Regions from separate parts of the Homo sapiens genome. Here region 1 is linked to region 2. Evidence: fine-mapped expression QTL. A gene starts in region 2. The other region holds a variant in brackets. All regions are shown on one strand. Distances are from middle to middle.

What was found. PIP is the estimated chance that this variant, and not a neighbour inherited with it, causes the effect.
Region 1: its variant is the best candidate, but not a certain one, in a credible set for the expression of RIMKLB in whole blood (TOPMed, PIP 0.62).

What each region holds. Positions count from the first base shown.
Region 1 is chr12:8,767,315-8,772,698 of GRCh38, forward strand. The region is part of intron 5 of RIMKLB (ribosomal modification protein rimK like family member B); the gene reads left to right. Among named protein-coding and RNA genes, the nearest start is that of LINC02972, 18 kb to the right of the region's middle. RefSeq lists enhancers at 4,793-5,294, 5,295-5,384. The variant A/G (reference allele first, on the strand shown) is at 2,902.
Region 2 is chr12:8,695,366-8,700,749 of GRCh38, forward strand. It overlaps RIMKLB (ribosomal modification protein rimK like family member B), which reads left to right and starts at 2,626. Exons shown (of 6, transcript NM_001297776.2): 1 at 2,626-2,932. RefSeq lists silencers at 2,431-2,530, 3,061-3,230 and an enhancer at 2,455-3,421.

The DNA.
Region 1 (5,384 bases), 72 kb after region 2:
ATAACTGCCCATGTCGAGAGCTGTATGCCTAAATTGGGAGAGACACCAGGGACAAGACTCTCTGGCTTCGTAGCCTAGGGGCCTAAGGACGCAGTGTAGAGCTTCCTTAGATCCCTTTGGAAATACAGCTTGCTAGAGGAAATGAAAGTCTGAATCATTAGTACCTAGGAGGCAGGGATCAGAGGAAGTAGATTCAGAGGTAAGGAGAATTTTGGGCTACACTTTCAAGAAAGTCGTGGTCGGGACCCAGAAGCTATGGGTCAGAAGGAAAAGTAGGGGTGTACGCATGGGCATCTGTTGAGTAGAGACTTCTGTCTGCGCCATGATCTCAACCGGCTAACACCAGGAGTTCGGGATGACAGCTTTCTGCTTCTAGTCGGCCCTCAGCTATCCCAGGAAAATTGAAAGCGGAAGCTGGTTCCAGGCAGACCAACGCTCCCAATCCAGAAGGTTTGGGTTTGTTAGAAAGCTCTTTCCCAGACAACCTCACACCTGAGTCTTAAGTCTGGCGGCCATGCTAATTATTTTTAACCAGCTGACAGGTGCCTGGTATTTTCCTCCAATTCTAAGGAAGGATAGGACAGAATAGCAAGCCAAAGTGGTTCAATATTATTCACTGCTTTGGAGGTCCCTTCGTGGTCACCAAAATGTTACCAGGGGGTCCTTGTGCCTAGAGTTCCCAAGATGGCGGCAGGGCCACTTCCAATATGGCGGCAGGCCTCTTGTTCTCTGACCTGGGGTTCTTGGCCTCAGGGATTCCAAGGAATGGAATCTTGGGCCATGTGGTGAGTGTTATAGCTCTATTAGAAGCCATGGGTCACGGAAGAGAACTGTGGAACCCAGCGACTACTGTTCAGCTCGATTAGGAAGAACCCAGGCACTTAGTTGTGCAGGAACAATGGCAAGCCTTTAGCCCGATCAGGAGCAGCAATGGGTGCCTCACTGGATCAGGAGCACAGAGGACATCCTGCTGGATCTGGAGGGGTGGAAGTCAACGGTGGGTCTGGGACAGTGGCAAACAGCAGTGATGGACAGTGAGCAAAAGCTCAGCTCGAGCCGTAACAAACACGGACCACAAGTGTGTGCAGTTGCATGATTTAATAGAGTGAAAACAGAGCTCCTGTACAAAGGGAGGGGACCCAAAGGGGGTTGCCTTAGAATGTTTTCATCTGTTTTTATAAGATTGGCCAATATTATTATTTTTAAAAAACTTTATCACATTTGATATTAAGGTTATGCTGGCTTTATTTAATGTATTGGGGAGTTTTCAGTCTTTTCCTAGGGCATTCTATATTGGTAAAGTAACATTGGAATAAAGGATAGCTAAGTAAAACTGAGCCGTGAACCTTTCTCATCCTAGTTCCTTTTGCAGTAATAGCTTTTATCACTTTCTGAAACCCTTCTGTAATAATTGCCCTGTTAAAGTTTGCCACTTCTGGGGGCGGTTTTGGAAATTTATCATTTGCTTGGAAAATGATACATTTCTTTTAGGTTTCCAGTTTTTTGCCAAAGAGTTTTGTGAGATATTTGCATATGCTGCTTTTAATCTCTGCTTTGTATGTGATTCTCTTTATTGTCATTCTTATTCTTGTCAAAATAGCTTTTGTATTTTTAAAAAATTCTATCTTTCTGTTGTATTCATTTTACTTTTTGTTTTCATTATATCTCTCTTCCTAGTTTCTTTGGCTAGAACACTTAGTTTCTTGTTTCAAAATGAAGGCAATTCATGTTAAACATCTTCCTCTGGAGAATTTTCACAGTGTTGGAAGGTATTAATACAAAGCATTTTTCTCTTTTATTTACAGTTGGTTCTCATTTTCCTTTGTGATTTCTTTGATCCAAGGGATCAGTTTTGCAACCTCAAAGTAGTTAATATTCTTTTGGCTACCTTTACCATTACCCTATTACCTTCTGATTTTCTTGACTTACTAATGTTGTCAGAGAATGTGGCCTGTAACATTTTTTTTTAATTTCATTAATTTTTTTTGGTGTGTGACTAGCATAATTGTTTTTTATATTTAACAAAGGAAAAAATGTATATATGGATATATACTCTGGTCAGGAGAAATAAAGCTGTGAAGTAAGTTTATTTTGCGTGTTTTCTATAAGCAGTATATAGCTAAGTTTTGTTTTTTATTCAAATCGGACTAGTTTCCATCTTTTAATGGAAGATTTGGTCCATTTTTTGTGTAATTACTAATATACTTAAAATTTCTTCCATCTTATTTTGTGTTTATTATTTAACTCAAATTGTTCCTTTTTCTTTTTCTTTTCTAATTTTTGCTGGTTAGTAAGGTACCATTTTATTTTCACTCCTGCCACCAAACCCAGTTAATTTGGGAGATCAACCAGGGTTTTGCATTCCATTAATGGTTACCTTCTATTTTCTTATGCTCATAATCAGACAGATTCTCTACAGTTACTTGAGAAGATAATTTTCCTTGATACTTTATTTACTACTTCACTGTATCATCATAATAATAATGAAGTCTTTGGAATACCTTTACTTTCCCCTGGTGTTCCTTGTTCCCTCTCCCCTCCAATGGGAATATTAGAACAATTTTATTTCCTTCCTACTCTTTCCACTTGATTGACTCATTTATTGAGTAAATAGTTTCAAGTACCTCCAAAGCGTCAAGTACTGTTGTAGCAATAATTTTTTTTTTTTTTTTGGGAGATGGAATTTTGCTCTTGTTGCCCAGGCTTGGAGTGCAATGGCATGATCTCAGCTCACTGCAACCCCCGCTTCCCGGGTTAAAGTGATTCTCCTATCTTGGCCTCCCACATGCAGGCACCTGCCACCACACCCAGCTAATTTTTGTATTTTTAGTAGAGACGGGGTTTCACCATGTTTGCCAGCCTGGTCTCTAACTCCTGACCTCAGGTGATCTGTTCGCCTCG[A/G]CCTCCCATAGTGCTGGGATTACAGGCATGAGCCACCGCGCCTGGCCTATTGTAGCAGTATTTTGTATATACTAGTGAACAAAACAGACAGAAATCCCTAGTCTCATTGACCTTATATTCCAGTTTTGCTGAAATCATCTAATAGTTTTAGTTCATCTGTTTGGAATTTGTTTTACTGTATGTCTCTTCTGTTTCATGAACCCTTATATAGCACTTTATCCATTCCCAGGCAGTCTGTCTTTATCCACTTAAAATGAATTATACCTATATTGCAAAGTACTCACCATGGTTTACTCCTCATATTCATCTTCCCATATCTTGAGATCTCTGTTAGCCATTTACTAGTATGTTAGTATCATTTCTTGATTATTTTTCCTGGTGGGCTATCAGAGTCATAGATACCCTCACATATTCTGTTAATACAAAAAATACACTCAAAGTGCTTTTTCTATTCTCTCATTCAACAACAATTCACATGGAACACTTATTTGACCACGTGTGGGGGATTTCTCTATTTGGAGATACCATCAGATCTGACAGGTTGAGGGCTCAGTCACCAGGAGTCACCAAGAATATCCCCAACTTCCCACCTCACCCCCTTCAGACACCAGTTGCAAGTCCAGGCCTACAGAACTTCTGACCAACTGGCTTCAAGTTGGGGTTCCCGTGACTTTCTGCTTAGGTTTGATTAATTTGCTACAGCAACTCACAGAACTCAAAGAACACTTACATTGTGTTATCTGTATATTATAAAGGATATTTCAAAGGATACAGGTGAAGAGATGCATAGGGCAAGGTATGGGAGAAAGGATATGGAGCTTCCATGCCCTCCCACGGCTTGCCACCCTTCAGGAGCCTCTACGTGTCCAGCTATCCAGAAGTTTTCTGAACCTTGCCCTTTTTGATATCCAATTGGATAGACATAATTGATAACCATGTAAAAATGTAATTGGACCAAAAGGGTATGATCTAACACTAGTAGACTGAGTAGGGAAACCCAGCAAGGCCTGTATGTTCAGATTCTTCTTGGCCTCTCTGTGCCACATTCCTTCCTCCAGGGTATGGGGCAGGACCTCATCTGGAATGAGGTCTTATGACCCACAATCAGAAAGGCTGTGAAAGATTAGAGTCCTGCTGTGGGGTAGGTGAAAGGAGGACAGGGGAAGGTTAGATTCTATTTTCTAAGGAAAGTGCCCCAACATTATAACAAAAGACTATAACAAGGGCTGTTGGAGTGATATGCCAGGAACTGTGGACAAAAACCAATATATAATTTAGATCAGAATATCACACATCTTTCTCCTTGGAAGAAGAATAATACTTTGTCTGAGATATAATTCTTATATTGTAAGAGTCTAGCTTCAATTCTACTGCCTTGAAGATTTTATTGTTGCAGTTTAATGTCCAAATCTACTCTCATTTTTTTCCTTTGTGGGTAATTTATTCTTTGTAAATTTTTTTAGTGGCGCTCACATTTTATTGGGATTTTGTAGATATATTTGTGTCTTATCAGTTCAACCTGGATTTTAGCTGTTTTAGTCAGCAGACTAAATTTCTTCCTTATACAGTTTTCTGGAAAATGTCTTCATTAATTATTGCCTCTCCATCTGTTTCTGTCCTTCTGAGGAATATTTTTCTGATTCAGTTCTCCAGTTTTGTTTTTGTTTTGTTTTGTTTTTGTTTTTGTTTTTGAGATGGAGTCTCGTTCTGTCGCCCAGGCTGGAGTGCAGTGGCACAATCTTGGCTCACAGCAACTTCCACCTCCTGGGTTCAAGCGATTCTTGTGCCTCAGCTTCCTGAGTAGCCGGAACTATAGGCGCCTGCCACCACACCGGGCTAATTTTTGTATTTTTAGTAGAAACGAGGTTTCACCATGTTGGCCAGGCTGGTCTTGAACTCCTGACCTCAAGTGATCCACCTCAGCCTCCCAAAGTGTTGGGATTACAGGCATGAGCCATCACAGCTGGCCCAAATTTTTTATCTTTATGATTTCACCTCACATTTTTAGCTATGCTTTGCATATTACTTGATTTTCTAAGTCAACTCTCAAAGCGACTGTACTCTCTTTGAGTTTCTCTATTGGATTTTTTAGTTGAGTAATCATGTTTTTGTTTTAACTTCAGAAAATCTTTTTGTGCTGAACTTGAATCTCCTTAAAGAGCTCTTATTTCTTTCATCAAAGTCATAGATGGATTATTATTGTTTTGTTTTTACATCAGGGCTCACTCAGCTTGGGTTATTTGTAGTATTCTACATGGCCTCAGTCTTAGAAGTGCTGTGAAGCAGAATCATTTAATTCACGGGCCAGTCTTCTACGGAGGTACCTAAAAGAAGCCTTTTGTTTCCTTGACTTCTTTATTCCTACAGCCTCAGTGGTAGGGAGGATCCACCTCACCTGTCCAGCTACTTCTGGCCTTTTTGGGGTCAAACACTACGGGTAAACTCACATGTCATCCTCACTCCTATGGATACACAGAGCTCTT
Region 2 (5,384 bases):
CCATGAATTCTCAAAGATTATGACTGAATGTATGTACAGCCTTTCTGAACCTTGGGTTTCCAATATGGAAATGGTGTAAATAATTTTTGCCCCCTTATTACTTCATATAAAAAGTATGATGTATGAATTTGATCATTACTCACATAAACATTATCTTAACAATATCATGATAATGGTAATGTGTTTAAGCCTTATCATTGGCTTTTTTTAAATACCCTCCTGAGCTTTGTTTTACTCCCTATTAGCTTAAGTCAAAAGCAACGTTGTTACATACATGAGAATATCTTAGAATGTGTATGGCACATAGAAGCAATAAATTGAATAGCAACTTTTTTTTTTTTTTTTTTTGAGACAGAGTTTTGCTCTTGTTGCCCAGGCTGGAGTGCAATGGCACCATCTCGGCCTGAAACCTCCACCTCCCAGGTTCAAGCGATTCTCCTGCCTCAGCCTCCTGAGTAGCTGGGATTACAGGCGTGCGCTATCACGCCTGGCTAATTTTGTATTTTTAGTAGAGACAAGGTTTCTCTATGCTGGTCAGGCTGGTCCAAAACTCCCGACCTCAGGTGATTCGCCTGCCTCAGCCTCCCAAAGTGCTGGGATTACAGGCGTGAGCCACCGCGCCCTGCCCTGAATAACAACTTTTAAGGGCAAGTGGCAAGTGAGTTAATAGTCATACTTCCTATCCTCAGTTTCACCAGTACAACCCACTTTTTCTGGGGATGCAGTTACCACGAATTGGATTCCTTAAGAGTGGGACTGAAGGAATAGGTTAATTAAATATTATTATTGATCCTCTGTACATTTTTTTCCCTGTGTCAATTTCACTGTGTTTATTTTGTCAGATTTTCAGTGTTAGTATCTCTGTGCTCAAGCTTCCCTTGATCACAAAATGCTTCTCTTGGTCTTGGAGTTGAATATACTTTATGTCCCAGGGGGCTGAATATCAGAGTGGAAGTAAATAGCAACAATTTAGTTCTGTAGACCTTATCCCCTTTGTTCTCAAGATAGTGTATCTATCTTATAGGGCGTTTGTTCCTCTAAATTTTGTAAACCAACTAGACGCCTATCCTAGGTTACTCTCACTGACCTAACATTATAATAGCACTAAACACTTTGAACAGCACTTGATCTGTGTCAGCTGTTAAATATTATATACTTATTAACTCATTTACTCCTTATGACAACTCCATGAAGTAGGTGACTATTTTTATCCTCACTTTTACAGCTCAGCAGATAAAGATACAGAGAGGTTAAGTTACTGCAGAGGTTCACATAGGGAGTGGAACCATAAATCCAATCCGGGCAGTCTGGATCCAGAAGTTACCACCCTGGGTTATGCTACATCTTTTAAAGGACTCTCGAGACGCTGAAGGAAATTAGTCAAAAAATTTTTTAAAAGCAGAAAATGAAATTATATTGTCAATTGACTGGGAGAGGAGCAGTGAAAAGTTGTTGGCTGAGGTCACTGAGACAGGGCTGAGACCAGCAAGAAGGCAAACTGGTGAGCACATTACCGTACCTCACACCTGGTGTCTCTGGTGACTGAAGTTATTTGGAAGTGAATCTTCCATGTAAACCTGGGAGGTCGTCTGTAGCCCTTTTTTTTTCTCCTTAAGAAAATGTAATAGCGTAGTTGAACATTCATATTCTTAGCCTCCTTTGGGCTATACTTTTATTTTTTATACATAGTTTTAGAATTTACAAAATGCTCTTAAAATATCTCATTTCATTCTCACAACGACTCCGGACTGTACTCTTTTATCTTTTCACAACAAAGGCTCAGAGGAAGCGTAGCAACTAACTTGTCCAAGGTTTACGCCGGTTTCTAGGGGGCAGAGCTGGCGCTATCCACCCCGCCTGTATCTCCAAACCCGCTTCAGCCAGGAAATTTATCATGTGGTTTTAAATTTGCCTCTCAATATACAGAGGTACTGTCTTTACTCCAGTCCCGGATAAAGACCTTCTAGGTATGAATGATCTTTGTCTCCATATCTTTGCCTACCGGAGGGAGGAACCACCGTAAGCGGAGACTCCGGGCGGCGGCCGGCGGAAGGGCTGGGCGGGAGGCGTCGGGATGCCGGCAGGACCCTGCGCCCGAGGGGGTAGGGGGCTCGTGTCGGGGTTCCAGGCGCAGATTGATGGGGCCTAAGCAGGGAATGTGAGGGCGGGGAGGGCGTACAACGGAAGGGACTAATCTCGCGGTTTCGAGTTGGGAGCAAACCTCGCCCCCCACCCCCCCCATCCGTTTCCCTTTCTCAGTGAAGACGGTTTGGGGGCGGGTGGGGAGGCGCGTCCTCGGAGCGCCCTCGCGCTCCCTTTTCGCTCCCCGCGCGCGATCCATCGCCTCTCTTCCCCCGAGGCCAGCGATGGCTCGGGTGCGGGCGAGGAGCTGGGAGGGCGGCTCTCGACGCAGGTGTCAGATCCGCTCGGCAGTGCTCGGCGCGCTGGCCCGGCCCCCAGCTCCTCCGGCCGCCGCCCCCCGCCCGCCGCGCCGCGGCGCCAGGAGGGCGGGGCCGGGGCGCGCGCCGCTCCTCAGCAAGCGGGCGGGCGGCGTTCGGTCTGAGGGAGCGGGGCGGTCTCCGCCGGCGTCGCGCGCGCTGTGTGTGAGCGGGGTCGCGCGCGCGCGCGGCAGGCGAGTGAGGGAACGAGGAGCGGCCGGGTGTGAGTGTGTGGGAGTGAGAGTGTGTGGGAGTGGGGTGAGGGAGAAGCTGACGGGACGCGAGGCTGTGAGAAACTGGGCGAGTGTGCGAGGACGCCCGGCCAGCCTGCGGGAGCCGCAGTCGGCGGAGGAGAAAGGAGGCGGCTCCCGGTATCCCGACCCCCTCCCCCTCCTCTCCTTCCCCCACTTCCAGCCGCCCGGCGGCCCGCGCTTCCTCGAAGGCCCCAGCCCGGCTCAGTCGGCCGAGAGCGAGGGAGGAGCCCCCCGACCCAGGTGAGCGGTACGACCGCTGTTGCCCTCGGGTGTAGAGCAGTGAGGCGAAGGCGCGCCCTCCCGAGTGGGCGAGTTCAGCGGAATGGATCCCCCGATTAGCGGGGGCTGGGCCGGGGAGGGGACCGGCCCGAGCGCGCCCGGGGTCCGGGGCTAGTTGAGGCCGGTGGTCGCCGCTCCGCGGAGTCGGTGGGGAGCGAGGCGGGGCCCGGCCTTCGCGCGTGTGCCGGGAGGCGCCGGCCCGTGGCGTGTGCGTGCGACCGGGCGAGCCGTGTCGAGGGGGCGGCGACTTCGGGCGTGTAAGGAGTATGGTTTCCCCGCCGGCGAGGGGGTGTGGTAACCCCGGGAACGCCGGCTGGAGTCGGACCCGCGGGCTGCTGACCTGTCCTCGGGATTGCGGCGACACTCCCCCTCCCCCCCCTTCCCACAAATTCTATGGAGCGACCGCGGGAGGAGGATCACGTGGTGCGGTCCCGCAGCTACTGTATTCGATTCCACGTTTTCCTCCTTACGTGTAAATTTTAGAGAGTGTGACAGTCATTCCATCTTTTCCTTTGACAGTCTCTGAATGAGAAGGGGATGACCAAATAATTGCTTGTCCAGTTTTGATTCTTTAAAAATTTGAGCATGATGTAAATATTACACTACTTGCCCCTCACCCCCCCCCAAAAAAAACCCAAACCAGAGTGGTAATAATTTCAATCTCCCCTTATTAATATGTCCTTATCTCTGATCACACATTTGTTATTTCACTGTTTTATCCCATTTGTATTGGCGAATAGCGATGGGGTGGTAATTCTGTTCTGTGAGGGGTTATTGCACTAACCATGCTCAATGCAACTGCTATGTAAATTCTTTCAGTATGCTGTCATTTTCCCATTAGTTATATATATTGTTACCACATCTTTGTGGAGTTAGGTTCAACTCTAAATAGGTATAGAAAGTATATGGGCAGCCTACTATGCAGATTTTTTTTTGTGGGCTTGGTATGTTCATTATATTTATGGGTGTTCTTAATTATTAACTATAACCATTTAAATTGAAATGTTTTTAAATCTCATTTTTGTTACTTTCACAATATTGGGTACCTTAAAGGTCATTTCTTCTATTTTAAAAAATGATTTCTTAAAAGCAATTATGAGAATACTTTTAAGATATTCATTTGGAATAAAACACTCTCTGAAATTCCGGTCTCAGAGATTTAACATTTATTTCCTAAATTTTAGTATGCAACCCTCTAATTTTAAAAATAATCATAGTTAAATTTCTTTTCCAATGGTTACTGTTTTATTTGGTTAGTGTGTCAAAGGGGAGGAGGCCTATTTTGTCTTGAGGTAATCCTATTTTATTCTTTTCTATCTTGGTTAGTGCTGTTAATTTCCTTCTTTCATGTCATTGATTTAGTTGTTAGTTTGGCAACATGGCTGTTGATGTTTTTTATCTTTCTCTGTCTCCCTTTTTTCTCTCTTGTCTTCTCTTACCCCTACCAGGTGCTGGAGTCTGCTTGTCAGGGAGGGGGGCAGTCTGTGATTCTGAGAACAGAGCCAAGAAGGGGAACAGCAAATTCAGTCACAGACAATCCTCCACTCGGTCAAGAGCCACTTTTCTCTTCCTGCCTTGCCCCCCCGCAGGGGGTAAGGAACTGAGCGTTTAATCTTTAGCCGGTTGGCTACCAGCTAAAATTCTACTTATCTTAGTTTCTAGTGGATAGCTTTCTTATTTTGCCCATGTTTTCTTAGAATCCCTGTTTAATATACTTTTGTCAGTAGTAGTATCTAGGAGTAGCAGGGAGAGTGACAATAAATTAGCCCCTTCTTTTTTCCCTTGTCATTCAGGCCCCTTTTCCTCTCCAGAGGGAAATTACCAGTAAACTCTTCTAAATCTTCCACCCCTTCTCAGTCATACTGTGAAGAAACACACTAAAGTGGACATTATTTGACCAGTGAACACGAACCCAGCTTCAGGCATTGGTTTGTTGTGGCACATGGAGAAACATCTCTTTTAAAATATCTCCCAATTACCCTTTTCACAATTTGTATCCACCTAGGATTTGCTGCTGGGGTAAGTCACTAGATTTATTTCTCAAAGCTCCCCTCTCTATGAGCTGAAAGACTGACCAACCATGAACACTAGTAGGGGATGGGGAAAGGGGACAGAGCAGAGCCAGTTGTTCCACACTTTGGGAAGCAGGAGTAGCTTTTATCATCTTCCTCTGGGGAGCAGGCATAGAGACATAAACTGAGTGAAAATGGGTGGAGGAAGAACTTCTATACCCACGAACAACATGTGAAGAGAGAGAACCAAACATAAAGTAAGGAGGGTGAGTTTTATTGTATGTTGCTTGCTGACAACTGTTTTGGGGGCGCTTCAGTGATATACATTCATAGAAAGACTTTGTTTTATGGCAGATTAGTTTACAAAGAGTATTCTGCAAGTGGGATTAAGTCACAAGCAA